2 separate regions of the Homo sapiens genome follow, and region 2 is linked to region 1. The links come from fine-mapping of genetic effects on gene expression. A gene starts in region 1. The other region holds a variant in brackets. All regions are shown on one strand. Distances are between the middles of the regions.

Region 1 (16,592 bases):
AGATACAGGATATTAGAATATATGATTAAGAAGAATGGTGATTTTAAAAGCTTATCAAATAGCTGCAGCTCCTGCTTCCTTGACAGGGAGAGTTTCTTTCCTGAGGGCCAGGCGCCAGCAGCCCTGGAGACGCAGGGCCCAGTTTGCCTCAAGTCTCCTTCCCAAGGCTACTCTACACCTCCTCACAAAGACCCCATGAGGATTTGGTGTCTGGCTTCTGGCAGCACATTGACCTTTTCTCTGCAATTGTGTCAGCAATGGATCCAGCTTCTTTTCCTGGAGGGGACTCGAGGAGCATCAAGGGCCTGAATGAACTTCTAATGTATTTGTGTTTCAGCAGCAGTCTTCAGAAATCAATTGTTCACCAATTGGACAGACCGGCTCGGGGCTAGAGTGCCCTTCCTCCAAGTTCCCACATTGATTATTTTAAGAGTTCTTCCAACTCAAATGAAAAATACCAAAAATTTTAAAACATGCAGGCCTTCTGAAGCTATCCAATCCTAAAATTAAATATTGGGTGTGGGAATGGGAGTACACTAGGAAGGGTCCAGGAAGGACTCAAGGCTCTTTCCAAAGGTGAATTGAGGAGAGTTTAATAAAGAGGTAGAATTGAGGAGAGTTTAATAAAGAGGTAGAAGTAGTGAGGTAGCGAGTAATCCATGAATGAGCCTCAGCAGGGAGCCGTTGGCCCCTCTAGGGCTGCAGGAGAGAGGCCACCCTGCAGAAACTGAATCTTGCGGGAGGAATGTAGTCTCTTCCAAGCCATGGCCTAGGGGAATAAATACCCAGAACTCTCTTTCCCTCCTCTTTGGTCCTTTCATTTCCAACCAGCACGTCTCTTTTGCTGAGCCCAGCCAGCAGCCAGAGGACCAGGGTGTGGACGATGTAGTCCATAAAGGTCAGCCTTCAAGGAAATAGAAACAGTGAAGAAGAGCAGAGAGGGTTCCCAGCAGAGGCGGGAGCTGGGGGGAGAGCCTGTGGCGTCAGATCTCTCCCAAGAGTAAGCCGAAACTCAGGGCTCCTGGGAGGTCCTCTAGGGCTGAGGCAAACTGAAAGAAACAGGTTTAGCTTTAGGGCCAAGGAATGGGTTGAAGAAGCCTAAGGTGAGGAACCAGGTGGCAAAGTTGGAGACCAGCTGGAACAACTGAAGAACAAAGAGAGGGAGGGAGACATGTGGCCTCCAGGGTCAGGGCAGGCCTCCATCCTGCCCCCGTGCTCCATTCTAGGACAAATCTCAAAGTTACCAAGCTTCGGTCCCAGGGCCTCTTTGAAACTGGTTTTAACACTAAGTAGGATATAGGGTCCCTGGCAGGCTCTTCCCAGGCAAACCATGACTATACACAATTCAAGGCCATTGTAAAGTAATGGTGAGTATATATTTTCACAGGCCACAGAGTAAAATGAACACAAAAATTTGTTTTTAAAAATGTTTACCTCTGCCAGGTGCAGTGGCTCACACCTGTAATCTTGGCGGCATGGGAGGCTGAAGCAGGAGGATCACTTGAGCTCAGGAGTTGGAGGCTGCCTTGAGCTACAGTTGTGCCACTGCCATCCAGCCTGGGTTACAGAGACAGACTCCAAGTCTAGGGGAAAAAAAGTTTAACTTGATCATTTCTAGGTAAAGGCAATACTTTTCAGATTTAAAATTCTATCATTTCAGATTTTCTGTCATTTCAAATGTTGTCTTTCAGATTTGAAAAGAGGATTTGTCTCCTCTTTTCCCTCAGAGTAGCATCTAAGCTTCTGACAGAGCAATGTGAAATCTGGGAGGCTTCCTCTGGGCACTTTGGAGATGGTCTAGGGCTGGCTGTCATCGACTGAAATATGCAGTGACATCTGGTCCCTGGGTGTGGACACCCACGCTGGCTCTTGGTAGGTTGTTTAAAACCTGTCCGTTGCTAGGCCCTTTCCACTCTTTGTTCCTTGGATGGTATTTTGGGTTTTCCTAAGCAGGGTGTGCAACTATCATCCAGGTTTGTCTCCCGTACCATTATGCAGAGTGTTTCTCCATGATTTGCTTTGTCTTATGTCAACCAGATGTGAAATGAAGCCAAGTTAGCCTCTATTGTTCAGCCCCTACACTTGATAACACAGGGTTCTGTCATCCATCCCTTCCACTCTACCATAAACTCACACCAGCTTCCCCATCTCAGAGGCTCTTCCCTGGCCTGTGGAGAATAGATGTAGTGGTAGAGGGGCCATGAGAACTCACTCAGAAAATATTCTTGCCAAATCTTCATTCTAACATCTAGACTGCAGCTTTCTTAAGGTTAAAAGCCAGAAATTAGACATGGTTGTTTTTCATTTGATCCATATAGTAAACACAGAGGGTGATTGAGTTGAAGGCTGGTTGCATGGAATGTGTACAGTCATCTCCCAACACCCCGGCAGACGCCTGAAACCACTGACAGCACCTAACCCTACATAAACCATGTATTTTCCATCTGTCAACAAATTGGCTAAGTGACTACCTGGGAGGTAGCATAGACAGCACAGATATGCTGGACAAAGGGATGATTCACATCCCAGGCTGGACTGGGCAGGATGGCAGAAGATTTCATCATGCTATTTGGAATGGCACACAGTTTAAAGCAAATAAATGGTTTATTTCTGGAATTTTCCATTAATGTTTTCAGACTGCTGTTGACCACAGGTAACTGAAATCATGGAAAGAGAAACTGCAGATAAGGGAGGACTACTCTATGTGGTGGGGGAACATATACATAAGAGATGACATTGTGAAGTAGGTAAAATTGGTTTTAAAATCTTTAATACTCTATTTTTCAACTTCCACATCTTAGTATTGTGTGTTCCTGTGATTTCTCTATACCCTTCTTTTTGAAATCTATTTTCAGGAAATCGTCTGATACATACAACCCTAATAAAGTTCGAATGACTTGCAGCACTTGCATTGTTCTTTCTACATGTAATTTGATTTGAAGCAAAAAAATTCTGAGACAAAGGAATAATTTTCTCTAAACTCAGCATCAGTAAGTGGGACAGATAACGAGGTTTTGGAGTTAAGGGAGAAGTTGTCCTCGATCATATCATTTAGATCATTATTTGTTTTGCTTTATATTTGCTGATATATTTTTAGATTCCGAAATGAATTCTAATAGGTAACTTTAAAGGGAAAATTTACCTTTATTGTAATATTATTTTCATCAAATCACTAATATGACAAGAATACAAAATCCTGAAAATAAGTTCAAATTTTCTAATTTAAAAGAATTGAAAGTGTTTATATATACTCTAATATAGATGCTTTAAATATATAAACTTTTAATATGCTATACAAATATACGTATGTATATACATCTTATGCAAATGTACACTTTTAGTAAAAGTATACATGTATATTAAATGTATGTATATATTCTGTATGTTATACATATATACATGTATAATATATTGTATAGAATATATGTATTTATGTATATATAACATATACAGTACATAATACATTATACATTAGGTATATAAAATATATATACGCAAATATATATTTCCTAATACAAGTTATTGAAAGATATTGGATTTAAGACTATTAAAGCAAACATATCATCTTAAATATCTGCCAAACAGGAGGATCTAGGGGATTGAAAAACTTTTTTTGTGAAAGATCAAATAGTAATTATTTTAACCTTTGAGAGCTGTGCAGTTTGTTGCAACTATCCAACTTTGCCGTTGTAGCACAAAAGCAGCTATAGAGAATACATATATGATGAAATGCTTTTATGTTCCAACAAAACTTTATTTATGGACACTGACGTTTAAATTATATATAAGTTTTGGCCAGGGAGGTGGCTCACACCTGTAATCACAGCACTTTGGGAGTCCGAGGCAGGCGGATCACTTGAGCTCAGGAGTTCCAGACCAAAGCCCGACCAACATGGTGGGCACCAGTGGTCCCAGCTACTCTGGGGGCTGAGGCACGAGAATCGCTTGAATCTGGGAAGCAGAGGTTGCAGTGCACCAAGATTGCACCACTGTACTCCAGCCTGGATGATAGAGTGCATGAGACTCCGTCTCAAAATAAAATAAAATAATAACGTATAATTGTCATGTGTCACAAAAAGTTCATTTAATTTTTTTAACCATTTAAAAATATAAACATCATTCTTAGCTTGAGAGATGTAAACAAACAAAAACAAATGAATGAAGAAACAAACAAACAAAATCCAGAGGGGTCAGTCTATTTAGCTCACAGCCTGTAGTTTCCAGACCTCTGATCTAGACTTACCCACTCAGGATTACCAACGCAGACATTGGCTAAGTCTCAGGACTGGAGGTGAAATAGGGTGAATTAGGCAGGTAAAACCACCATAAAAAGAGGCAGAAGAGCACAAGCTTAGGCATTTAATCCATAATAAGAATATGGACCCTCTATTAGTATTTTGCACTAAAGAAAAAAAGGCAAATTTGGATTTCTGCTAATATCCTGAGCTTGAAAATCCCTTCCATCTAATTTCCTTGCATCCAGTATGTTTGAATTTAGAATGCCAGTTTTATTTCCCTGCTCTTGGTTCTGTTGGTGAAAAAAGGGGAGAGGAGATGCCAATATTTTTATGAGCTGTCAATTTCCATATCTGACCTGCTAGCATCAAAAAGGTGATAGCAACAATTACAGAATATTACCAATTCTAAATTGAAAGAATGCTGACTCAAAATCAGACGGTCTATCTTCCAATCTCGTATTTGTTATTAACCACCTGAGTGGCAAAAATTACTGAAACTTTCTGGAGATCAGTTTACTTATTTGTAAAAGAAGGATCTTGAAGATTTTTCTATCCATGTGAATGAATTATAGTTCCCCTTATTACAAACATCACTTTACTGAGAAGGCCTAAGGCAAAAATAAACTTTGCCAGAAATGTAGGCAAATTATGGAAGAATATGTCAAAGTACGGAAAAGACACATTTAAACAGTAAATTCAAGTTTGTATCTTTGTACTTATTTACTAAGTTTTATGGTAACCGAGAATTCAGGATAAATTTGACTGCAGTACTTTTTCTTATGTTTATTTTTTCTGGAAGCATCCAAAAGTTAAGCTGGCTACAGGACCTCTGGTTTACAATTCATTTCCTTGAAAGAAAAGAAGAAATAAACACAATTCTATAAAGTCTGTGAATTAAAACTTTGAACCTGCAGATGGTGCTATGATTCCATTTTCAAATTGTTTTGCTTTCTAGTTTAAATTCATAAGAGAAAATGCAGTTGTTTGGTTGAGTTTACTTTTATTCAGAGGTAATAAAATTGAATTATTTCTTTTTATTTTATCTTATTATTATTATAATAGAAGCAATTGTCTTTTGTATTGGGAAAAGCTACTATAGTTACTCTTTGTAAATGCTAAGTGCTTGCCTAGGCCAAATAATGATCAGCTTTACATCTTTTATGTTTAAAATTTTTCTTCTTATCATTCAGCAGTCATTTGTCTGTGACCCTCAATTAAGTTGCTTTGCTGTTTCTGCTCTTAAATAAAATTGGTTCACTAAGAATTGGGTGATGAAGAGCTAAGGATAAAAAAATTCCATATGAGAACTGTTTCAACCTCTAGTTTGTAATAATCAGGTAAAAAAGATTTCCTGGAATTAAGCCACAGGAACTCTGGCTTAAGTCAGAGCTGTCAACTGGGAAACAAATTTCCAGACATTTTGAAACTTAATTCATTTAATTTTTCTGGTAACTGGATTAGAAAATATGATTAAGCATAGCAGGATATTCTTTTACTGGATCAGTCTGACTTTGAACGAAGGAAATAGATACTACAATCTTAAAGTAGAAGAAAGAGGACTGTAAAGCCATTCTGTCTTATGAAACTTAGAAACAAAATGTAAAAATAATACACATGGCAGAAAGCCTTTAAAATAAAAGGAAAAATGGCATTTTCCTCTGTTGTTTAGGAAATTTTTCATGTGGCTGCATTTTTACCTTAAACTCTGATTGAATGTGTGCTAGACTACCTTTAGTTACAAATCCACAAATAGAAGTGAAGTATTTATCAAAGTACTATATAAATGCTTTTCAACTATTTGAAGCCACCTGTCAAGTGATTGAATCAGAAATGTTCAAAACTGGTTTGAGTATGTGTGTGTGTTGGGGATGAGGGTAGAAAACTAATTCTACATTATGCAAAGACTTATAAAAGTGATGAGGAAAATCTTTAAAAAGAAAAGACAATTAAATTCCTTGAGGTATATAGCCTGACAACAATTTATTTTTTGGATCATTTGACACAGTGTATGTAAAAGTGCATTGGGAATTGTGCCATTTTATACAAATATGAAATAGCACTACTTGTACTGCTTTGTACAACAGCGTGCATATCTTACTATCTTAGAGACTTTCTGAAACACTTATCTTGGAATTAGTTTCAACAAAGACGAAATGTAATAATAGGAAGGTGAAAATTATCTCTAGAGCTTTTAAAGTTAGGATAGATTTCAAGAAAGATTAAATCTGGAACTATATGAATAGCATAAAAATTAAAAATATTAAGAGAATTGATACTTTGTAATAAAGTATAATTATACTTTTATAAGCGTAATGAACATAAGTGTTTGTTGCTTTATGCATTTGTTTCTACACATGAAGTCTTTATTTTCTGAAGGAATCCCAATGGCCCTGGCTATAACACTACAATCATTTTCTTATTTTACAATTAATTAAAGGTTAAAACATTTCACATTGAGCTTGCTACTTTGTTTGTTTAAAGAAAAGTAAATTTCCTCTTATCTTACATTTTGAAGTTGCTCACTATAAACTTATATAAATTAGGCATAATGACAATTAAGTAAGAACTTCAAGCCCTATTCATCCCATGGCCGTCATACTGTGACGTCTTTCAGAGCACTTTGTGATTGCTCAGTCCTAAGTATAAGCCCTATAAAATGATGGGCTTTGAAATGCTGGTCAGGGTAGAGTGAGAAGCACCAGCAGGCAGTAACAGCCAACCCTTAGCCATTGCTAAGGGCAGAGAACTGGTGGAGCCTTTCTCTTACTCCCAGGACTTCAGCACCTAAGACAGCTCCAAAACAAACCAGAACAGTCAGCTCCGGGGGAGCACGACTGGGCGAGGTAAGTGAAAACTTTACCTTTCCTCTTCTTTTTCCCTCCTGCCTCTGGAACTTTTCTCACAAAATAATGAATTTTTCTCTCTTGAAAAGAATTTGATAGTGCTTTGCTTTTGCAACAGCAAAAAACAAGTTTCTCAAGTCACCTGGTAAGGATAGAAATACTTCAATTTCTCTCATATGGATAGATTTTCTGAATTCTTTTGTTTGTAAGATGCTTTACCCTGCTTGCTCTTTTACTGAATACTGATTTTTACAAATAATTCATTCAAGTAAAGTTTACTTGTATGTAGATTTTTGACTGAAAATTTCAGTGGGAACATTTGCTTTTGAAATTTTCAACTTATTTTTAAAGTGCTTTTTTTTTCCTATTTCGTATGTTGGTTAAGTGAATCTAAGATGCATTTATTTTTTCCTTAAGTTTAAATTCCATAATTTTTATAGGCAGCAAGAGAAACAGACCTTACTCCTAGGCTTTTAATCTAGAAACTAGAAATGAAATGTGTAAGTTGATTAAATGCAAGAAATGCAAGCTTTGCTTTTAATATATATTTTCCTCTTATGGAAAAATTTATTTCAATGACAACATATGATTCAGTAATATTTTGAGTATTAATATTCACTACTGAGTTAAGAAGTTCAAATCCAGGTGTAAGGAAATAAGTTTCCGTAATATCTACAATTGAAAGAGGAAAAAGTAATGTATATACAAAATCTTTTTTAAAATTATATGTATATATACACATTATATTTATACATTTGCACACACACGAGCAGAATAATTATTAAATAGATGATACTCTAGTCTTATATTAGTCAGATACTGAAATTTTAAAGCAGAAGAAAATCAATGTCTTGAAGCTGTTTCCTTCGTCAAAAAATACACTAAGCTTGAGTGGTACATCCCTGTTATGAAAAGATTGTCCCCAGGGTTATTTCCAGCACTATAGAAGTATGGCATTCAATAGATACTGGGGCCAACCATGTGCCCAGACAGCAGGTGAAAAGGATTCTAATTTTTATTCAAGCACCTGTCACTGAGAGAAATACTGATTTTTGAATGTATCATCTTGCAATTTAACTCTTTCTACAAGATGAAAATTACTCTTTACAAACTCTGCAAGAGCCATTGAAAATTACTGCTAGACAATCAGAATTACCTTGCTGGTGACATCTTTGGCTGGAAGAACTGAGGTGATTCTCTCTCTTTAGAGGCACAGAAATGGACACCAGAAATAAGGCCCAGCTCCTTGTGCTCCTGACTCTTCTCAGTGTGCTCTTCTCACAGACTTCGGCATGGCCTCTTTACAGGGCACCTTCTGCTCTCAGGTAAGTTCCCTTTCAATTCAAACATCTGAACATTCCTTCCTCATCTAAATGGGAATTTCCTATACATTTTGTTGGACAACTAAATAGTATAAATTATGTATTATGTATTTAAATTTTTCCTTGATGTGTTGAGTGAGAGGTGTTTGTCAACATCAGGTCATTCTGAGTCCTGGAATTCACTTTCAGGGCATGAGAGACACTGTCAGTTATTAGTTTTATGGGCTGAGTGGATCACATTCCCAAACATGGTGAAAGGAGGCTTTCACTTTCTTTTTATTCAAAACCATCTTTAGATAAATAATAAGCTTTTATCCATTGTTATCTCAAGTCAGTTCAATTTCTGGTGGAAAAAAGCTGTTTAGTTGCCAACCACATTTGAGTTTATTTTCAAGATTAATCAGTAAATAATCATAAGACTAGTAGTTGATTAGTGAAACATGTATAAAATCATGTTGCACAGAAATCTATCTAGGCAGAGTCAATTTGCCAATATTAAATATGGGGTAATTGATCTATTGAGATACACTCCCCCAATAGGAAAATTTTGATATACTTTGTTTGGACCATAAATCCTTAGTTTTATTGTTCTATATGTTATATTATATATTCCAAATCCATAAAGTATAACACAACTCTTATTTAAAACTTTATTAATGTATGCTAAAGAAGTAAACAATAAATGAAAACTATATTAGCTTGAATTTTCCTTTCAGTTTACGGGCACCACTGTATCTCCAAAGGAAAAATAATAATTGGGTTGGTTTCCTTCTTTGCTTATTAGGTCATTCTTGATTTTTTGCTTAAGGTAGACTTATGCTCAACAGAGAGAATAACCTCTTAGCTATTAGTGTTCTCTGTGAAATCTGTTTAAATACAGCTCCTGCGTTGCTTTGATAACTAAACAAAATGGTTCTATCTGAATAGTTCTACCACAGCAGATGAACAATCACAAGAATGTGGACATTTGTGTTGATTGCTAAGCTTCAGACCCACAGAGGACTAGTTGCTAGTGACTCCCAACTCCCAAATCACTGAAAGATACACAAGTGTCCAGGAGCTGACACGCTCCTTGGATGTTTGCCCTAACAGTGAAAATCTGCACACACAAAATTATAAGAGTTGCCGGTGATTGAAATATGCATGCATCCATAAATATAGTCATATTCCATATATGCATTTGACTATTCTTAGTCTTTCAGTGTAACATTGTACATCCCTTATTAAAGTTGTGTTAATACATAAGATTAGAAAAAAGAAGGCCCCATAAAACTTATTGAATTCAAATTCATCTTCATAGATGAGCTATCCATCTATGGAGACATTCTTTGAACTCTGTCAATACAGAGAAATATATAATGCCAAAGTAAATATTTGAAGCAAAGCTTGGGGGTCGAGAGAGAGAGAAGCAGTTAATACTCTGTTCTTCAGAGATGTTTGGAACAGGTAATACTGAACATCACCAAATCCATAAATTGTTATCAGTTCTCATTCAATATTAGTTTTTTGCAAGTTTCTATTTTGCATAAAATATTTCTACATACGAAATTTGACTTTGCAAAGTGAAGATATTCTTGGCATAGTAAATTACACCAAAGAAGTATAGTTTGCTTAATGCTCTGATAAGATTGAATTAAGTAGCTCTTGTGTTTTGTATATTCAGCTTATAAAAGTCATATGGCATCTACTTTATAGGATAATAGGAATTTCCTATTTATACTCTCATTAACTATATGAGCCATTAAGTCAAATTATGCTATTCTCATATTATGACTGGGTAATACTTCCCAAGAGTCTAAGTATCTTATTTTAAATGGTTGCGGAACCATACACACTGTCTTCTGAAAAAAGAATGTATTATTCTCGTGTAACTTTCCCCATCAGGTTGGGTGACAGAATACCCTTTGAGGGAGCAAATGAACCTGATCAAGTTTCATTAAAAGAAGACATTGACATGTTGCAAAATGCATTAGCTGAAAATGACACACCCTATTATGATGTATCCAGGTGAGTTTATTTTTATAAAACTATCCAATGAGTTTTATTTTAGAAAATGTGTTTAAGAACTATAAACGTGCTTATTTTATCTCACCATGAAGCTATTCCGATAGCAAAACACTAGAGGTTTCTATGTGTCATGGCTTCATTCATCCTGATTTACTGCAGATCTTACAGCTGTACATAATTTTCATACTGAAAGGTTGTAACAAGCCAGGATGAACACACCATTCACTTCCATTCTGTTGCACATAATTCCAACATCACAGATTGTACCAATTCTGATAAAAGTACAGCATTTAGCATTCCAATGATGGAAGAGTTGCCAAGGAGTTTTGTCTCTATATAAAGAAAAGATACCTGATAGAGCTGTTCATTCATAGAGCTGTTTGTCTAGAGCATCATTTCAAGTACAGACCAAGTAGCTCTATAGTACTTGGTACAGACAAAGTATAAAAGGTGCTTCATTTGAAAGAGAAAAGGTGGGATGATAGGCCTTAATGCCTTCTCTATCTTAAGAGATTTTGTTTCCAAATATTTTGGAAAAAGAAAAAAAAAGGTGTACTGGGGTTTATGAACTTTCCAAAATCAGAATATTTTCCCATTGTGAATGTCTTTATTCAGTGGGGCAGACACAAAGCACCATGTACAAATAGCAGCTAATTTAAATAGATCATATTTTTACACCAATATTTCTTAGAAAGAAATAGTTATAAAGATTCAACCATGGAGGAATATTGAAATGTGCTCCTAGAAATGCCTGTTTCTTTAATTTTTCAGTGTCTTGGGCTAGAAATATAGGGTATATCTTGATATAAGTGACTAGAAGATCTCTTTTGTTAGGGTGTTAAGAAATCTCCTTTTGAACTTTAGTTTTAATGAGAAGCTTTCATAATAAGCCCATAATTTTTTTGTTATTTAATAAGCCATAATAATATTCTAGAAAGCCATTTACAAAATAATAGCTATTTTTTTCTTCCTTGTTTTAGAAATGCCAGGCATGCTGATGGAGTTTTCACCAGTGACTTCAGTAAACTCTTGGGTCAACTTTCTGCCAAAAAGTACCTTGAGTCTCTTATGGGAAAACGTGTTAGGTAAAGAGAATTTATTATTTTTATAAAATATGTTATCATTATTCAATCTGAATATTGTATTTTCACTCTTAACAAGTTATTTACTTTGTTTGAAATTGAAAACTCGTTGATAATGTTTAATTTAGTTAAATGAAATAACTTGTATTCTTCAATAACATCTATCAAGCCCATGGACTAAGACTTTTTCATAATATCATATTCATTGACTCCAGACACACATTTTTCTCAAGTAGCAATCATTTAGCAATCTGCAATCAAATTGAACAAGACTCAGTAAAACAATCAAAAAGAGATAGTACAGACTGAGGTAAATTTTAAGGTCAAACAGAATATTCTTTTTACTTCCTGCTCAAATTAAATGGAGAATTCCAAATGGCCAACAGTCAAATATTTAGATGACGTTGCTCAGGGTAGCATAGCTTCTAAAGAAGTAATTATGTTTTTTTTAAAAAAAAAAAAAATTTCTCCCAATGGCAGAGCACAACTTCAGCTATTCCCAAATTTTTATTTTTGGATGAATTATTTGCTCAGCTGTACAGAATGTGTCATAAAACAGTCCCAGGCCATGCCAAAATATGGCAGATGATTCCTTGCTTTCCTTCATCCTTAGGTTTAGTTGTATTTTTCTTTTAGTCTTTTTATGATAGAAAATTAGTTGGGTGGGAATTGCTTTTTATGTGGCTCCAAGAAACCTGGAACATGTGTGTATTTATCATTTCTTGTGAAAACTCTTTGATTTCCTTTTCCTCATGTTCCTTAGCAGTAACATCTCAGAAGACCCTGTACCAGTCAAACGTCACTCAGATGCAGTCTTCACTGACAACTATACCCGCCTTAGAAAACAAATGGCTGTAAAGAAATATTTGAACTCAATTCTGAATGGAAAGAGGAGGTAAAGAAAAAGAGAACTTGCTAAAATGAGGAATCATGACTGACTTTCAAAATAGAAGCTGCACATGGAGACCTCTCTATCTCACTTATCTAGCTATACTACGTGAAGCAGTGATTTTCAACCTTGGCTGACATTAGACTACCCCGCAGAACTTTAAAAATACAGATGTCTGGGCCTTCTCCCAAACCAATTGCCAGGAAATCGGTGTCTTCGGTGGTGTGGCCCTAGACATACATTTCTTTTAAGAGTTCCCCAGTTGACTTTACTATGCTGCCAGTGTTAAAAATGATGACTATACAGACATCTAGTCTGAATCTAAGAGCAAGTTTCATCAAAAGTGATGATTTTTAAAACATGTAAAGCATAGTCAATTGCAATTTGGTAACACATGGAACTCACTTCGTGTGCATATTCACTACTGTTATTTAATCAAATTAAACCATTAGGTATTTTGTATATTTAGATTCTGTAAAATCTATATCTCTCTATGGTGTGTAAATATTGGACACAATACATAAACAGTGTAGTGTTCTGTCTTTTTATTCCAATTGTTTTTGTTTAAGTGATGAGTATTAAGGATAATTCTGTTTGGGTGTGATCAGACAAGATGACCTCTTTGCCCACTAGATGATAATTCTGTGAGAATAATTTTAGAAACTCTAAGATTGATGAATAATTCATAGGTACTAACAAACCTCAAAGATAATTGTTTAGCCTCCCCATACACTTTCAGAGCACAGAGAACAGCACATTCATTATGTCATAATAGTTTCTTTAGACCCTTTCTCATCTGAGAGCCTTAATATGTACAATGTTTTTCTGGTCTGCAGCAGTGAGGGAGAATCTCCCGACTTTCCAGAAGAGTTAGAAAAATGATGAAAAAGACCTTTGGAGCAAAGCTGATGACAACTTCCCAGTGGTGGGTATATTCGTGCATTCCTTCTGTATTCTTATGGCTGTCTCTGATTATATAAGTAGCTAAGAGTCACTTAGTAAGAAACATCTTAGGGTTAAATAGTTTCTCATCATGAGACCTCATCCAAGACAGACACTTCTACAACAGTGGACCCCAACCCAGTAAACAGCTTAGAATGATTCATGAAATTTTTTTGATCTTGTAAAAGAGAGCACTCACAATAAGCAAACGTTTTGAGATCTGAATAGTGTTCCTGGCTTACTTGGGGTTATTTCTACCTTTGTATCAAGATAAAAAAACAGAGGAGGCTGACTCACACTGACAAGAAAAATGGGCTTTCCTTTTGAGGATCGACCCATGCTGCTTTTATTAATTGAAGGTTTAGTCTCACAATTGACTGTTAGCTCCTCAATTAAGTATAGGGAAATAGCACCAAATTAGAGCATGGCCCATTACTATGAAAATATCAAGGCATTCTGGGTCTAACTATATTCCTTGAAACATGGCAAACTTCATAGAGCAAAAGTTAAATTTAGCTTGTTTTACCTGTAAGTTTGTTTTACCTATATGACTCTAATAGCATTCTCTGCCAACATTTTTTTTGAGCAGAAAAAACATGGATAGACTTTTTTTCTTTGTGAAGTAATAAGCTTGCTATCAAAATTGATTTTATATAAATGTGGGTTCAAGACATATTTCTTTCCTGAGTTACATTACATTAATATTCACATTCGCTCATAAAAAATCTATAATACTGGGCAAGTGCTTAAAGAAATTTCATGCTGTCACCATATCAAAGGTTAGCAGATTTTAAAGGGCTATGGAGTAAAATATGTTTGGCTTTGTGAGCCATCTATTTTCTGTTAGAGTGACTTAACTCTGCTATGGTAGCACAAAAGCAGCCACAGTTAGATGTAAAACGAATAGGAGTGACTGTGTTCCAATAAAACTTTATTCATAAAACCTGAAGGTGAGCCAGATTCCAATCCCTAACTAGGTTAAGGAGATTAAATTCACCCATGCTCAAACTAAAGGCAATTCATGGCCTTACCTCAGTTCCTGATGGGGTTATCTAAGGTTTTCAACAGTCATCAAGAGTGGACATGGTGTCTGGGAAGATACCTGCTTAATTGACTGCTTTTGTCCACTAATTACCCTTAGACCTCTAAGAGAAAGCAGAGGCAGGAGTGTGGCCCACATCAACTCTTTATCTTTTATAGACATCTCAGAGAAACAAGTCCCTTTGCTCAAAGAAGAAAGTTAATTACATATAGCTTTTCTAAGAGTGTTTATAAGAAGGCTTCTCCATCAAATTAAGAAACACGGTAGGCACTAAAATATAAAGGAGAATTGATTAATCACACTGTGCTTTGTAAATGGTAAGATCACTTATGAGATTCCATCCTCCATTCTTTTCTTTTTTAAATGGGTGGCTTTGGACAAATTCTTTGAAGAGGAAATCATGTGGGTCATCCATTAGTGAAAATTACAAGTGAATCATTAATAATGGTTAGTTAGACGTCTTTTCACATTCCAGTTCCTCTCTGATAATCAGTCCTCTAGAAGCTGCTCTCTTGGTATGTCCCAGGACATGATCCCCTGCCACAGGCTGTTAACAAGGGACAAAGAGAAATAAGTGTTTATCAGATAAGTAAATCAGTGAATGAAACTAAGATGCTAGAAATAAAATATATTTTATGCCTAAAGCAACAATTTTTTCTTTTTCAGAATTCTTGAAGGAAAATGATACGCAACATAATTAAATTTTGAGTTCTACATAAGTAATTCAAGAAAACAACTTCAATATCCAAACCAAATAAAAATATTGTGTTGTGAATGTTGTGATGTATTCTAGCTAATGTAATAACTGTGAAGTTTACATTGTAAATAGTATTTGAGAGTTCTAAATTTTGTCTTTAACTCATAAAAAGCCTGCAATTTCATATGCTGTATATCCTTTCTAACAAAAAAATATATTTAATGATAAGTAAATGCTAGGTTAATTCCAATTATATGAGACGTTTTTGGAAGAGTAGTAATAGAGCAAAATTGATGTGTTTATTTATAGAGTGTACTTAACTATTCAGGAGAGTAGAACAGATAATCAGTGTGTCTAAATTTGAATGTTAAGCAGATGGAATGCTGTGTTAAATAAACCTCAAAATGTCTAAGATAGTAACAATGAAGATAAAAAGACATTCTTCCAAAAAGATTTTCAGAAAATATTATGTGTTTCCATATTTTATAGGCAACCTTTATTTTTAATGGTGTTTTAAAAAATCTCAAATTTGGATTGCTAATCACCAAAGGCTCTCTCCTGATAGTCTTTCAGTTAAGGAGAACGACCCCTGCTTCTGACACTGAAACTTCCCTTTCTGCTTGTGTTAAGTATGTGTAAAATGTGAAGTGAATGAAACACTCAGTTGTTCAATAATAAATATTTTTGCCATAATGACTCAGAATATTGCTTTGGTCATATGAGCTTCCTTCTGTGAAAGTACATTTGGAGACACAACTATTTTTCCAAAATAATTTTAAGAAATCAAAGAGAGAAAATAAAGACCTTGCTTATGATTGCAGATAATTTTTTTGTTTGATTATTTTATATGATTCAGCAGTAACTCATTTTAGCTCTAAAGTTCTAGGCACTAGATAGCTTTTGTGGTATTTGATTGTGTGCAAGTTCTAAAATAATGATGGCTTAAAATAAAAGAGAAATTTCTTTCTCACGTAAGTCAAGAAGTAAGATGTCAGGGTTATTATAATGGTTCTGCTCAGCAAAACCCTCAATAACTTACACCCCTTCCAGCTCATCCCTCATCTCCAATGGTGTGGCACTTTTCCTCATGATCCAAAATTAGAGCTAGCATTCCAGCCATCACATATGCATTCCAGGCAGCAGGCTATAGGAAGAAAAAAGGGAGCAAATATTATATGCCAGTTCTCTTTGAACTGATATCTTATACTAACATCCCCTTTACTAGTACATAGTCTTATGGCCACAGTCATTTGCAAGAGAGGCTGGGAAATGTAGTATGTTTTCTTTTCTTTTTCTGGGTGATCATGTACCCAACTTAAAACTAAGACTCTATTAATATAAAACAAGGAAAGAATAAATGTATGCAGCGATTAAAAATAATTCCAGGCTTGGATCTTAAATTCTCACCCAAAAAGCTTAAAGAAATAATAAAGAGAGCGAGAGTCAGACCCTAACCATTAATGAAGAAGCATTATCCCCATAAGGCAAAGTTTTGCTTGGTTTCATTTTCTACAATTAGGACAAATGGCC
Region 2 (16,592 bases), 36 kb before region 1:
CTAGTATATAAACGTATTTTTATATATAAGTCTTACATTCTGCAGTCTTGCTTAATATAATTTGTAGTTATATTTTAGAATACATAAGATTTTCAATATAAAAAACAAGCTAATAGCTGAGTGCATTGGTGTGTGCCTGTAGTCTCAGTTACTTGGAGACTGAGGTGGGAGGGTCATTTGAGCCCAAAACTTTGAGACCAGCCTGGATGATATAGTAAGTCCCTGTCTCTAAAATCTCTTAAAAACTAAATCAATCAATCAAGCTAATAGATTTATTTATATCCTGTCCCAATTCTTTGTATTATAATTATTACATATTAAATCTATATAAACTATACATTTCATATGAAAATATTTTAATTTTTGCTCTAGCTAGAAAAATATATTTTAAAGAAATTGATGGAAAAGAGTCTTCTATATTTACTCTGATACTATTTCTGATGGTCTCAATTTCTTCTTAAAGATCCCAGTTTTCATTATCCCCAGACTAAGGATTTTCTTCAGCACATGTTTTAGTGTAGGTGTGCTGGTGATTAATTTGAATTCTGTTTCACCTGAAAGAGTATTTATTTTTTTATTTTTTTTTTTATTATACTCTAAGTTTTAGGGTACATGTGCACATTGTGCAGGTTAGTTACATATGTATACATGTGCCATGCTGGTGCGCTGCACCCACTAATGTGTCATCTAGCATTAGGTATATCTCCCAATGCTATCCCTCCCCCCTCCCCCGACCCCACCACAGTCCCCAGAGTGTGATATTCCCCTTCCTGTGTCCATGTGATCTCATTGTTCAATTCCCACCTATGAGTGAGAATATGCGGTGTTTGGTTTTTTGTTCTTGCGATAGTTTACTGAGAATGATGGTTTCCAATTTCATCCATGTCCCTACAAAGGATATGAACTCATCATTTTTTATGGCTGCATAGTATTCCATGGTGTATATGTGCCACATTTTCTTAATCCAGTCTACCATTGTTGGACATTTGGGTTGGTTCCAAGTCTTTGCTATTGTGAATAGTGCCGCAATAAACATACGTGTGCATGTGTCTTTATAGCAGCATGATTTATACTCATTTGGGTATATACCCAGTAACGGGATGGCTGGGTCAAATGGTATTTCTAGTTCTAGATCCCTGAGGAATCGCCACACTGACTTCCACAATGGTTGAACTAGTTTACAGTCCCACCAACAGTGTAAAAGTGTTCCTATTTCTCCGCATCCTCTCCAGCACCTGTTGTTTCCTGACTTTTTAATGATTGCCATTCTAACTGGTGTGAGATGATATCTCATAGTGGTTTTGATTTGCATTTCTCTGATGGCCAGTGATGATGAGCATTTCTTCATGTGTTTTTTGGCTGCATAAATGTCTTCTTTTGAGAAGTGTCTGTTCATGTCCTTCGCCCACTTTTTGATGGGGTTGTTTGTTTTTTTCTTGTAAATTTGTTTGAGTTCATTGTAGATTCTGGATATTAGCACTTTGTCAGATGAGTAGGTTGCGAAAATTTTCTCCCATGTTGTAGGTTGCCTGTTCACTCTGATGGTAGTTTCTTTTGCTGTGCAGAAGCTCTTTAGTTTAATTAGATCCCATTTGTCAATTTTGTCTTTTGTTGCCATTGCTTTTGGTGTTTTGGACATGAAGTCCTTGCCCACGCCTATGTCCTGAATGGTAATGCCTAGGTTTTCTTCTAGGGTTTTTATGGTTTTAGGTTTAACGTTTAAATCTTTAATCCATCTTGAATTGATTTTTGTATAAGGTGTAAGGAAGGGATCCAGTTTCAGCTTTCTACATATGGCTAGCCAGTTTTCCCAGCACCATTTATTAAATAGGGAATCCTTTCCCCATTGCTTGTTTTTCTCAGGTTTGTCAAAGATCAGATAGTTGTAGATATGCGGCATTATTTCTGAGGGCTCTGTTCTGTTCCATTGATCTATATCTCTGTTTTGGTACCAGTACCATGCTGTTTTGGTTACTGTAACCTTGTAGTATAGTTTGAAGTCAGGTAGTGTGATGCCTCCAGCTTTGTTCTTTTGGCTTAGGATTGACTTGGCAATGCGGGCTCTTTTTTGGTTCCATATGAACTTTAAAGTAGTTTTTTCCAATTCTGTGAAGAAAGTCATTGGTAGCTTGATGGGGATGGCATTGAATCTGTAAATTACCTTGGGCAGTATGGCCATTTTCACGATATTGATTCTTCCTACCCATGAGCATGGAATGTTCTTCCATTTGTTTGTCTCCTCTTTTATTTCCTTGAGCAGTGGTTTGTAGTTCTCCTTGAAGAGGTCCTTCACATCCCTTGTAAGTTGGATTCCTAGGTATTTTATTCTCTTTGAAGCAATTGTGAATGGGAGTTCACCCGTGATTTGGCTCTCTGTTTGTCTGTTGTTGGTGTATAAGAATGCTTGTGATTTTTGTACATTGATTTTGTATCCTGAGACTTTGCTGAAGTTGCTTATCAGCTTAAGGAGATTTTGGGCTGAGACGATGGGGTTTTCTAGATAAACAATCATGTCGTCTGCAAACAGGGACAATTTGACTTCCTCTTTTCCTAATTGAATACCCTTTATTTCCTTCTCCTGCCTGATTGCCCTGGCCAGAACTTCCAACACTATGTTGAATAGGAGTGGTGAGAGAGGGCATCCCTGTCTTGTGCCAGTTTTCAAAGGGAATGCTTCCAGTTTTTGCCCATTCAGTATGATATTGGCTGTGGGTTTGTCATAGATAGCTCTTATTATTTTGAAATACGTCCCATCAATACCTAATTTATTGAGAGTTTTTAGCATGAAGGGTTGTTGAATTTTGTCAAAGGCTTTTTCTGCATCTATTGAGATAATCATGTGGTTTTTGTCTTTGGCTCTGTTTATATGCTGGATTACATTTATTGATTTGCGTATATTGAACCAGCCTTGCATCCCAGGGATGAAGCCCACTTGATCATGGTGGATAAGCTTTTTGATGTGCTGCTGGATTCGGTTTGCCAGTATTTTATTGAGGATTTTTGCATCAATGTTCATCAAGGATATTGGTCTAAAATTCTCTTTTTTGGTTGTGTCTCTGCCTGGCTTTGGTATCAGAATGATGCTGGCCTCATAAAATGAGTTAGGGAGGATTCCCTCTTTTTCTATTGATTGGAATAGTTTCAGAAGGAATGGTACCAGTTCCTCCTTGTACCTCTGGTAGAATTCGGCTGTGAATCCATCTGGTCCTGGACTCTTTTTGGTTGGTAAACTATTGATTATTGCCACAATTTCAGAGCCTGTTATTGGTCTATTCAGAGATTCAACTTCTTCCTGGTTTAGTCTTGGGAGAGTGTATGTGTCGAGGAATGTATCCATTTCTTCTAGATTTTCTAGTTTATTTGCGTAGAGGTGTTTGTAGTATTCTCTGATGGTAGTTTGTATTTCTGTGGGATCGGTGGTGATATCCCCTTTATCATTTTTTATTGTGTCTATTTGATTCTTCTCTCTTTTTTTCTTTATTAGTCTTGCTAGCGGTCTATCAATTTTGTTGATCCTTTCAAAAAACCAGCTCCTGGATTCATTGATTTTTTGAAGGGTTTTTTGTGTCTCTATTTCCTTCAGTTCTGCTCTGATTTTAGTTATTTCTTGCCTTCTGCTAGCTTTTGAATGTGTTTGCTCTTGCTTTTCTAGTTCTTTTAATTGTGATGTTAGGGTGTCAATTTTGGATCTTTCCTGCTTTCTCTTGTAGGCATTTAGTGCTATAAATTTCCCTCTACACACTGCTTTGAATGCGTCCCAGAGATTCTGGTATGTGGTGTCTTTGTTCTCGTTGGTTTCAAAGAACATCTTTATTTCTGCCTTCATTTCGTTATGTACCCAGTAGTCATTCAGGAGCAGGTTGTTCAGTTTCCATGTAGTTGAGCGGCTTTGAGTGAGATTCTTAATCCTGAGTTCTAGTTTGATTGCACTGTGGTCTGAGAGATAGTTTGTTATAATTTCTGTTCTTTTACATTTGCTGAGGAGAGCTTTACTTCCAACTATGTGGTCAATTTTGGAATAGGTGTGGTGTGGTGCTGAAAAAAATGTATATTCTGTTGATTTGGGGTGGAGAGTTCTGTAGATGTCTATTAGGTCTGCTTGGTGCAGAGCTGAGTTCAATTCCTGGGTATCCTTGTTCAATTCCTGGGAACTCCCTGACCCCTTGCGCTTCCCAGGTGAGGCAATGCCTCGCCCTGCTTCGGCTCGCGCACGGTGCGCACACACACTGGCCTGCGCCCACTGTCTGGCACTCCCTAGTGAGATGAACCCGGTACCTCAGATGGAAATGCAGAAATCACCCGTCTTCTGCGTCGCTCACCCTGGGAGCTGTAGACCGGAGCTGTTCCTATTCGGCCATCTTGGCTCCTCCCCCTGAAAGAGTATTTATTTCACTACTATACTTAAGGGATACTTTTGCTGGATATAAAATTCTGAGTTGACAGCTTTTTTAAAATCACTTTAAAATATCACCGTGTCTTATTAAAAGTGAGTATTTAAATAATTGTCTTTTATGAATGTAATGTTATTATTATTTGTAATTTGGCTGTGTTCAAGTTTTTTTTGTTAACCTTTGATCTTCAGCTGTTTGACTATGACGTGCATAGTTCTTTATATATATTCTGCTTGATGTTACTGAGACTCTTGATTTGTAGATTAATTTGTTTCACTAATTTTGAAAAATTTCAGCCTCATTTATTCAAAATGTTTTTAGCTCCATCCACCCTTTCCTCTGTTTGGGGGATTATAATTGCACATTTGTTAAATATTTTTATATAGTTCCACAAGGCCTAGAGGCTTGCTTTTTCCCCCCAATATTTTTCTCCATTTTTCAAATTGGATAAGTTCTATTAATACACCTTTAAGTTGGCCGATTCTTTTCTCTCTCATTTTAATTTCACTGTTAAGCTCATGGTATAAATTTTTTAGTTCTCATTTTTTTAGTTTTAGAATATCCATTTTGTTATTTCTTATAGTTTCTATTTCTTTGCTGAAATTTCCTATCATTTTATTCATTGTGAGTGTTTTACTTGAAATCATTGAATATGGACATATGAGTTGCTTTAAAATTTTTGTCTGCTAATTATGTCTGGATCATCTTAAAGTTTGTTTTTGTTGACTGTCTTTTCTCTTAAGAATGGATCACATTTTCCTGTTTCTTCATGTGCCCAGTAATTTCATATTGTATCTTGAACATTTTGAATGGATTCTGCTATATTACCCTGAAGAGTGTTATGATGTATGTTTTCCCCCTAGTTTATTTTCACAGGCAAATAACTCTGTGGAACTACAACTACAGAAACCTATAAAGCCTGTCCCTTGGGCAGCAGCTTAAATCTCACTTTAGTTTATTTTTTTTTCTCTAGTGCTGTTTGGAATACATCCCACGTATGTGTGATTCAGGAGTCAACCAAAGATATGTGAAATGTTTATAAATAAAATTTGGGGATTCTCCTCTCTGGCTTTCTCTTCTCCAGGATTTCCCTCTCACATTCTCAGCAGCTCTTGTTTCCACAATCTCTGTCCTTTGTTTCTCAAGATCAGAAACAGTGCAGGTTTTCGACTGTAGCTTTACCTGTCCCAGACTGGAAGCTTCCCTCAGGTTAAAAGGTTTGAAAACTGGAGCTTGACTAGTACTTGCTGTTCTTTTCTTCCAGGTCTCAACTCCTCTCCAGTAGCTACAAGCATTTGGTCATTCTTAAGGCCTTTAGGTAGAATTTTTTTTTATATTGTTTTCAGTGTTCATAGTCATTATTACTTGAAAGGGTCAGTTCATAAAAGCTGATTTGGAATCCTAGCTTGATGTTTTTATTGCCTGTATCTGTTCTAATGTCACATTTCTTACTCTTGATATTGGTGATTTTCTCTTTCTCTCTGTCTCTTTCTCTTGCTCCTGCCCACTCTTTTTCCCTCTTTCTCTTTCTCTCCTCTTTCCATCCTTGTCGTTCCAATTAGTATTTTATTCATTTTTATTAGATTTTTTTCATATCTGGCTTTGATAATTTCCTCTATTTTTTCTTTTTCTTTTTTTTTTTTTTTTGCCCCTGTTTCATTAAGTTCTGCTTTCTCTTATTTACTGTATGCTACTTTACTTATGTTTCAGCTAGTGATCTTTTCCTAGCTTCTTAATATGGAAACTGAAATAATTGTTTTTGTAGGCTTTCTTATTTTAAAATGTATACCTATAAAGCTATAAATGTTCTTATGAATGTGGCTTTAGGCACATCTCACATGTTTCGATATTTCACAATTTTATCAGAATTCAGTTAAAATATTTTATAATTTTCATTAGGTATTTTATTTAATTTTCTTTATAGATCCTCAATCTCTGCTGAAAATTTTTAACTTGTTAATTTTTTAAACACATTAATCAAGTTATTTTAATATTTTTGTCTGATAATTCAAATATTTTCATAACTTACAGATATTTTTCCATTTTCTATTTGTTCTTTTAGTTTTTGTTTACTTTGTCTTGCCTCTTAGGATGACTTGTAATTTATTATTTATAACACATATATATATAACATTATTAGGTATATATAAATTTATTTAAGTATATAACTTTCTATTTCATATATATGTATAAAACTTTCCTTCTGGCAGTTAGGGGAAGATCACCTCAGTCCAACTTGGGATTGATCTATATTTTTATCTTTGTGAGGTCTGGTCTTTCTCCTGTTTACCATTAAGCTTAGGGAGTAGATCCTAGGGGGCCTAATTCCAGATTCTGGGATGTTTCCTAGGGTCCAACTTCCTTGGCAGCCCCTGAACACCAACTTATGTTTTCTAAGCTTACTTATAGTGCACAGCATTCTACTCAGATATTTTTGTTTCTTTTTACAGATTATTGTGATGAAAGATTTTCTTTTCTCCTGGAATTTGCTCCTTTGATTTAATAGTTTTGATAAGTCTCTGATGGCTTCAAACAAATTTAAGAAAATATTTTATTCTCCATTGTACGCTTGCTCTCATTGGTTTGATACATGTTAGTCTATCATATACAGAAAGGGGTGTGCTACCTTGATACTTTTGAATTTGCCCTCACCTCTAGCAATACTGTTAACTAATTATATTCAGAATATGGCTTGTGCTTTATAATTTTGATCAAAACTACTTTCAAATCTCCAAGCCTTTTGTTTATTTGACCACTACCATTCACAAAAAGGCATCTACAATTTATTTTTTCCATGAAGCTTTTTTAAACCTTCCAGATATATGTTATCCTCCTATCTTTCAAACATAATGACATTTTCAGCTCATAATGGTTATGCGTCTCATTCACATTTTCTTAGAGTATAAATTAATGAATGTAGTTTCCATTAACCAGGAAGGAAAAAAGAAAAACAAGAATTCCATTTAGGCTTCAGAGGTGGGACAGGGTGTCATTTTAGGTGGAGCAGCCAGGGTAGACCTCAATGAGAAACTTACATATAAGCAAAAGACCTGAAATTAACCATACAGATAGCTGAGGAAATAATTTTAGGA[A/C]TAGATTACAACCAGGGATGGGCCCTAAGTCAGGAGCCAGCCCATCTGATGTACTTAAGGAATGGTGAGGGGGGAAGTGCAGACAGAGCTCAGTGACCCAAAGGAAGAGTAGAGGAGATGGGCTCAGATAATTGGGAGCCTATCAAGTAGGGACTTTTAGGATATTCTTAGGCATTTGTTTTTACTCTGGGAGAAGTGGAGGATTTAGAACAGAAGATTGATATGATTTGACTTACATTTTATAATGTTCTCTCTGACTACTGCATTGAGCACATTGTTGGGGTGTGAGGGATATGGCAAGGACAGAAGCAGGAAGACCATATTCCAGGTCACAGATGTGGGAATGTGGCCACTTGGATCAGTGAAGTCGCAGAGTGGGTAGTGAGAAGTTGAATTCTGGATTTCTTTTTGTTTGTGAAAACAGACCCAATAAGATGTTCTGGCACATGAGATATAATGGAAAATACTCCTCGGCTGTTTAAATTATTATAATCAATCAAATTTCTATGCCCTAAATATTATTCTCCCTAAAAGCCCTTTTCGTCAAAAGTAGTTCTATTGCCTGAACCATTCTCCTATACACTCTATGATACCAAGGACTTCATGGCCTGCTTTGGTGAACATTGAACTTATGATTCTTAACAACTGCAAAGGGTTTTTGAATGTTTTAAACAATGTTACATTCTGCCATCACTGATAAATCACTTTCAGAGTTGGAATGCTTCAACTCAAGGCCACTAGATGGTGACCTCTACTAAATTTTAATACCAGTGGATGGAATTTGAGGTATTGATTATATTTACTAAAAATCATATTCAATATTACAATATTAAAATTGGAAGACACGAACGTGGCTGTTATTATCAGGCCAAGAAGGGTCAAATGACTTGAGGAAATTACACAACTATTAGCAGTAAGAGCCAGTGTTCGTTGAGGGCTTGTTATGTGCCATCTACTTGCTAGTTTTGTAGGTACGTATTACAAATTAGGATGACATATATTTAATTTATATGGCATAGCTGACCAATGTTAGAGTTTTTTCCTTCTGCTTTCAAAAGGAAAGTTAACATTTTTAAAAGTAATCATTTGGTCTCATAAGTTGCATTATATTGCAATTATTAAGAAGAAAGATTATGGCTCATTTTTCTTCTCCTTAGATTGTTGAGAAGTAAGAAGGCATATCATTTTTTAAAAAGTAATATCTTTGCCAATGTCTTTTTTTTCAGTTACATTTTCTTCTACACTAGGTTTTAAAAAAGGCTCCCAAAATACATTGTCAAAAGTCTGCCAGAATGGAATTACATATATGAAAATTTAAAGCTGTATGACCAGTAGATGCTGCTTTCATCACACAGTTTCTAAATTCTAGTTTGGGCAGGTCAGAAAAATCATCAACTATAATTAAATGAAAAAAAAATGTGTATGAAAACCACCCCTGTTATTTGACTCAGCATCTCTTTCTTATTGCCTTTCTGCATTTCTACATTTGCCTTTGCTGTTTGGACTTAAGGGAGCTTAAGAAGATAGATAAGTATTTTACCATATACCTCAGGAAGTCTTAGAAATTCTTCTGTCAGCAGTATTATTTGTAGGTGTTTTAATATTCTGCAAGGTATAAGAATTAGTGCAATGATTTCTGATATGGTTTGGCTGTGTCCCCACCCAAATCTCATTTTGAATTCCCACATGTTGTGGGAGGGACCCGGTGGAAGGTAATTGAATCATGGGGGCAGGAATTTCCTGTGCTGTTCTTGTGATACTGAGTAAGTCTCACGAGATCTGATGGTTATTATGAGGGGGAGTTTTCCTGCACAAGCTCTCTTCGTCTGCTGCCATCCATGCAAGATGTGGCTTGCTCCTGCTTGTCTTCCACCAGGATTGTGAGGCCTCCCCAGCCATGTGGAAATGTAAGTCCAATTAAACCTCTTTCTTTTGTAAATTGCCCAGTCTCAGGTATGTCTTTATCAGCAGCATGAAAACAGACTAATGCAATTTCTAAAGTGTGTATTTTACTGACTTTATGGATTAAGAAGTCGTTTTCATGATGCGTGTACTCTACTGAGCAAAAATTAAACAAATCCATATCAAAAGCAATTTTTTTGTAATTTGTATAATTTCCGTTGCACCCCCATCTTATCCTACTTTATATTCATTCAAAATTTAAATAGCCTATTATTGTGTGTATATATTATTATTATGATTCTCACGTACATTTTAAATTCATTATTTAATCCTTTTTGGATATCTATATAACCCAATATTTGATGACATTTTAAGTCATTTCCCCAAATTTTGGGCATAGACAATAGGTTTACCATATCAAATCAAAGTATTACCAAGCCACAGAGAATGATCATTTTAAATAGGTTTGTTGTCAAATTCCTCTCATGGAAATATTGTTATAGTTTTAGTGCCACAAAAATAATCTTTTTAGTTCCCAAACTGAAACTTGTCATTTAAGAAAATTGTGATGGTCCAATATATTCTATAATAACTTGCCCATTAGAGTTTGGATATTATCCTAGTTTTCTTACATCAGAACAATAATGTATTTTGGAAATAAAACAGTCATCTGAAATATAAATATATTTCTCACTCCATGTATTTTTGTTGTTTTTGCTAATATACTCAATTGCTGTATTTTATTTAATTAATTTATTTTTACTTTTTGTAGAGACAGGTCCCATTATGTTGCCCAGGCTGGTCTGGGCTCAAGCGACCCTCTCACCTCGGCCTCGCAAAGTGCTGGGATTATAGGCATGAGCCACTGCACCTGGCCTCAATCACAATAATAGACAAGAAATTATTTTTCATTGATTGTGTATTTAAATAGTTTCTATTTTTTTCTCGAATCTAAAGTTTGCTATTATTCCACTATAAATAACATTTATATTGGGAATATCTGATTTGTCAGAAGATGAGAGGCTCAAAGGGCGTACACAGAGACCATGTACAAGGACTCTTGTAATCTTTAAATACTTTCATTGAGTAACTGAATATATTTTCTCCTTTCAGATTCTGGTTTTAACTCCATTTTGCTGAAATCAAGGAAACATCTCTTTTTACATTTTATCTATTATGCCTGCTTATATACTGAGATATTTAGAGTCTTCAGTCAGACTCTAGTAGTGGTTAGGTACATTTACACATAGGAAGGACATATACTTTGTAAATTTGAGTATTTGTCTTCTCATTTGTATCATACACTAGTGTAACTAATAGTTCCCTAACCACCGATACTTGCCAATCAATTATTACAATAAATCAAGTGTTAATTCTACCACATGAACCTTAGCTTCTGTTTCAATATCTATAAAATGAGGAATTTATGTCCAACACATTTTCAAAAGCTTGTTTTAGCTGAAACTCCATTTCTATGAGTCCATAGCTGAGCTTGTTGATATTTAAAAGTCTCCACTAAAGGCTATTGATTCATGGAAATATATCTGTAGAACACACAATATTATTTAACCACCATTCTCTCAAGTATTTCTGTTCATAACAGGCTGCAAGATACTCTGGTATTGAATCGACCAATTTTTATGCAATTTATATTGCTCATTTTCATTTTAGATTAATATTTTCTTACCTTACACTTAGAAAATAAATAAGCAATTAACTATGAATTAAGATGCTTTGGTCTCAGATCCTTACTTGACCTTCACCAGGTGTGGGACTATGGGCTTGTTACTTACCTCTCAGTAGCCACAACTATTAAATGGGAATAACGCTAGCATTTCCTTTATTGGGATGTTTGAGGATTAAGTGATATAATACACTAAAAAATGTGCCTGGGAACTTTGCATAAAGCCATTGCTTTAGAGAATGTTGATATAATTATTTGTACAGATAATTGTGAAAGTAGGACACAATAAATGTAGCTTTTCCACAGGAGATAAATGTGACAATATATGGTGGAAGGACACTGAACTATATCCTAAAATTAGACAGCAGTGATTATTCCTTTGTAGTTATTAACATTAGTTTGTTTTGTTATTTCTGCATTCTAGGTAGTCTACATATTATAGATTACAATATGCTAAAAAGAACCTTGGCAATCATAAAATCTAACTCCTTTATATATATGTATAATGAAATCAGTGGGTCTAAACAAATTCCCTAAAAATCACAAAACATATTAGGAACAGAGCTGAGTTTGGAACCCTTTATCAGAGAGCTTTTGCCATGTAACAATCCACCCCCAAACATAGTAGCTTAAACTAATAATAATTTGCTTAGCTCACAATCCTGTGGATTGGTAATTTGAGATGAAATCAGCTTGGTGGATTTTCTGCTGGTCTTTGCTCATGTGTCACAGTCATTTGGTGAGTTGACTAGCATCTGAATTATCTAGGATGACACCATTCATATGTCCAGGTTAGCAGGCTCTTGGCTAGGGCAGTAGGGGTTCCTGGGCCATGTGTCTCTCATCATCTGGCAGGCTAGTCTGGCCTTATTTATATGCTGACAATGGCAGGGGTCCCAAGAGAAGGAAGGGTGGATGCTGAGCCTCTTGTAGCTTAGGCTTGAACTTGTATAGCTTCAATTCCATTGCATCCTACCGTCAAAGCAAGTCATGAAGCCTGCCCAGATTCAAGGGGTGGGGAAATAGACTCTATCTCTTGATGGGAGGAACAGCAAAACGTTTGTGGCTATTTTCTCCTCCTCTTCCCCAGTCTCACAACACCCATCAGCTAATTTTCAGGCTATGGCTCTCTCAATACAGACTACCTACATAAGCAATTAGATATGATAGCTTACCTTTCTACTTAGCAGTAACTTATTTTTGTCTAGGAAATGTAGGAGTCTTTACTGAAGATGTGATACTTGAAGGTAGAGCTTGAAGAATGAGTTTTCCAGACAGAAGCTTAAAAAATTGAATTCAGATAAAAGGACAAATATGTGGAAAAGCTCAGAGTTTTAGAGAGAATGACAGGCTTTGGTACAGTGAGAAACGAGCATGACTTGTGGGTTAGATCATGGAGGGGAAACGTTGGGGACAAGGGGTTTGATCATGGAGGGGAAATGTGGGGGACCAACAGGCTGGAGGAGTCTTCTAATACCCAGAATTTTTCTTTGCAAAGTGGTGTGGTGAGGGGAGACTCAGTTACCTAGTTTCATTCAAGAATATGTATTTAGTTTACAAGAGGCAGTAAGGTAGCATTTCCATTAGGAAAAGGCATTTTTCTCCCCAGAAAGGGAAATCTGAACAAATTACAAGTTCTACAAATTACAGAATACTGGTACGTAGCCGAGGCTCTATGGAGGTTCAGGTGACAGGAATTTCATCATCACAAGGGCGTAACAGAAGCATGAGCTGGAACCTGGGAAACAAGAAAGAGCCCAGTAGTCTGCACAGGTCAAGTCATCAAAGAGTCAGAGATATAGGTGACTGTCTGGGAGTTCAGGAAATATGACATAAATCAGTCAGCTGGCCAGATGGTTCTATCCCAGCACTTCCTGTCTCAGAAAGAGCAAAGGAAGTGAGGCATCATGAAGACTGCAGGTGGCAGAAATCAATGTGATTGATGAAAGCAGACAGAGGAAAAGGCAACATCAAAGTGATGACAAAATTCTTTATCAATCTGGCACATTAGTTACTACTATAACTCAAAAGGAAATCAACTTTGGGCTACATTTGCAGCTCTGTAAAAAATGGATGAACTAAATGCCATAAATTAATGACATCAAGTAAGACTACTTTTATCTTTTATTTCTTAAAGATGATAAAACAGGTTAAGTGACCTGGAATGCCGCAGCTGAAAGTGTTATTTTGTATCTTTCTGCTTGAATAAATGGAAGCATTATCAGCTTCCATTTGTTCATATCCACCTAACACTGTCTTCTATTTCCCTAATTCAAAGTATGTTTAAATTAATCATGTATTCTTTGAATTACAGTATATATGCTGACCCTTGTTTTTAGTTGAAAACCTATTTAAAAATTGATTTAGCAATTTGTTTTCTTTGTTTCAGAGGACCTTATCATGTCCTTCACTGTATCCATGGCAATCGGGCTGGTACTTGGAGGATTTATTTGGGCTGTGTTCATTTGTCTGTCTCGAAGAAGAAGAGCCAGTGCTCCCATCTCACAGTGGAGTTCAAGCAGGAGATCTAGGTCTTCTTACACCCACGGCCTCAACAGAACTGGATTTTACCGCCACAGTGGCTGTGAACGTCGAAGCAACCTCAGCCTGGCCAGTCTCACCTTCCAGCGACAAGCTTCCCTGGAACAAGCAAATTCCTTTCCAAGAAAATCAAGTTTCAGAGCTTCTACTTTCCATCCCTTTCTGCAATGTCCACCACTTCCTGTGGAAACTGAGAGTCAGCTGGTGACTCTCCCTTCTTCCAATATCTCTCCCACCATCAGCACTTCCCACAGTCTGAGCCGTCCTGACTACTGGTCCAGTAACAGTCTTCGAGTGGGCCTTTCAACACCGCCCCCACCTGCCTATGAGTCCATCATCAAGGCATTCCCAGATTCCTGAGTAGGGTGGCTTTTGGTTTTTGTTTCTTTCTTGTCTTGTCTTTTATTGAAAGGAAATCAAAAATAGGCTAAACAGAATTTTGAGGGCATGGCCCAAATAACTCATGAGTTCCAAGTTGAAACATGGTTGTGCAAGTTGGACATTACAATGTAAAACACATTTTCTTCAAACACGTTTTCCCTTTTGTTTCAAAAAATGTAATATTTTCCCCCAAGCGTTTTATATTTATGTATTTTGTATTCAATGTGAGGCTTATTAAAAATAGTGATTCTAATGTAAGAATCAGCTAAGATGCATTATATATATTTTAATTAAAATTAAAACTTCAGATATTTGTGGATTACAATCCTCATTTACTTCCAATGTGACTAAAAAGAGAAAAAAAATCACTGTGTCACTTTAAAGAAAAATCTTCTAAGGGATTTGGATTTTACTTTCTTTAGAATGACAAGTGAATCATATTGACATTTTACAATCTTAGATTTTTCTTTTTTTTTCTTTTGAGACAGGGTCTTGATCCGTCGCCCAGGCGGGAGTTGCAGTAGCATGATCAGGACTCACTGCAGCCTCTATCTCCCAGGCTCAAGTAATCCTCCCATCTTAGTGCCCCAAGTAGCTGGGACTACAGGGGTGCACTACCACACCGGGTTGAATTTTTTTTTAATTTTAGTAGAGATGAAGTGTCACTATGTTACCAAGGCTGGTCTCAAACTCCTAAACTCAGATGATCCTCCTGCCTCGGCCTCCCAAAGTGCTGGAATTAGCCTGGCCAATCTTGGATTTTTAATGGAATATGTGGGCACAAAATGACAGAACATAGGACATTCTAAAGTTCCTTGATTTGATCATTATAAGAAGTGTGGGACTCAAGCACAGGAAACTGAACTCTTTTGGTGTCATTGGATGTTTCATTTTTGACACTAATTTTTTCTGGACAAACTCTTTATGTGTTTTTCCCAAGAATAGTTATCTACTTCCTGGAGGCAAAATCCTTGGATTTACTAACATGATGATTTACCTTTTCTTCACCGTTGTCGTTACATTGTTAGAAAAGCAACAGGAAAAAATCCAATTCATTTGACCTAAAAACAAGCCTCAAGTTTAAAACCAAGCTCACGTTTTTCTTAAGGGAAAAATTTTCTTTCTTAAACTTACATCTAGCAACTTGGAAAGCACTTTCTCTGGGGATCTTCTTTTGTAACTTTGCAGACAAATAAGTATGAGTCACTGGGGAGAGAGTTTGTTATTGAAATAGATGTTGCCCATGAAGAATTCTCCTTCCTGGATTGACTCTTAATCATCAGGCATCATTCCTGGTTTGCTTCTCTACGAATCTCAATTCCAACTTCTCTGCAGAGTCTGTACAGTGATTAAGCCATGCCAGATGGTCTTTGGTGCACACAGTTATTTAAGAATCCACTTCCACAGGTGGCTGCCCTTGTAAGGAAGAATGCATCCCTAAATGTGGCCACCAGAGAGTTCCAGTGGGCAGATGTCTGTGGCTGCCCTTCTCATTTAAGGACATGAGTTCACTGGAGTATTACTCAAAAAGTCTGTGGTTCATTTCCAGTATTGTGAATATTTAGTTTATGTGGCCGTTTCTTTGTTTCTTTGAACAGTGGGATTTTCAGTGAAAAAGTACCCTCTTTTTCATTTCCTATTGCAGTGGTCACAGCTAATAGTGTCTGAACATGGTTCAAGAATAAGAGATTCCATGTAGCATTTTCTTTATTATTTTCATTTCCCTTATATTATCCATCATTCCTTAAGGACAATTATTCTTAATAATGCTTATAGAAAATGTTCTCTAATTAAACATGCCAAAAGGAAAAAGTAAGAGAAAGAGGGAGCAAGAAGAAAATGGAAGAAAAAGGGAAAAAAGCTAACCGGATAACCAATTTGTTATAAGTTGGTTTTCAACAAAGAAATTTAGCAGCCAAGTAAGGTTTCAAGGGAATATTAACTTGGTATCAGGGCTACTTTTTTTTTTTTTTTTTTACTTGCATGTCATCCTTAATGTCTAACATGAAAAATCAGCAAAGAGTATGGTTTTTATCAAGAATTTGTGTTGGGAGTAAAAACTGCTTTATAGCTCCCAAATTAGGAAGAGAAGAGCAGAAATCCTCTGGGGCATTTAACCATCTGGCAGAATTGTTGCTGCACCCTTATCCCAGTTATAAGACAGTCAAAATGACTATTTCCTAAATATTGTGAGTGTATGAAATGTGAAATTAAAGCAAAAACTGGAGACTTTTAATGTATTTCTTTAATTTGAAATGTTTTGTGGATTGTGAAATAAAAATAAATTTATGTCAAGTTTTATTCAAAATTCATTTATGAAATAATGCCAACACTGTTCTAAAAAGCAAGGAGTCAAGAAATTATAAAATTCAGATTAAATCAGGAAAACACATTAGATGGAAAATTATACTATAGAATTTGAGCTTATTAAAATTTATTGCATAAGAAAAGTCTCCTTTTTACTTTGGTATTTAAACCTAACCTAGACTATTTGTAAATGAATAGACTGAGACACAAATCCTTTTTCATATAAAAATGTATAATGGAGAAAGGGAACATCACAAATAAATTTTACAAGATTTTTAAAATTAATGCAGATGG

Evidence for each region. PIP is the estimated chance that this variant, and not a neighbour inherited with it, causes the effect.
Region 2: its variant is the best candidate, but not a certain one, in a credible set for the expression of VIP in lung (GTEx, PIP 0.50).

The regions. Positions count from the first base shown.
Region 1 is chr6:152,743,879-152,760,470 of GRCh38, forward strand. It overlaps VIP (vasoactive intestinal peptide), which reads left to right and starts at 6,919. Exons shown (of 7, transcript NM_003381.4): 1 at 6,919-7,081; 2 at 8,290-8,406; 3 at 10,288-10,410; 4 at 11,391-11,495; 5 at 12,256-12,387; 6 at 13,218-13,306; 7 at 15,032-15,882. The coding sequence starts at 8,300. The coding sequence ends at 13,263. LINC02840 (long intergenic non-protein coding RNA 2840) reads right to left here. Exons shown (of 5, transcript NR_183508.1): 4 at 16,102-16,206; 5 at 10,998-14,912. It also overlaps a transcript of MYCT1 not described here.
Region 2 is chr6:152,708,284-152,724,875 of GRCh38, forward strand. MYCT1 (MYC target 1) reads left to right here. Exons shown (of 2, transcript NM_025107.3): 2 at 13,459-16,286. The coding sequence ends at 13,970. Among named protein-coding and RNA genes, the nearest start is that of MYCT1, 19 kb to the left of the region's middle. RefSeq lists an enhancer at 12,906-14,105. The variant A/C (reference allele first, on the strand shown) is at 7,484.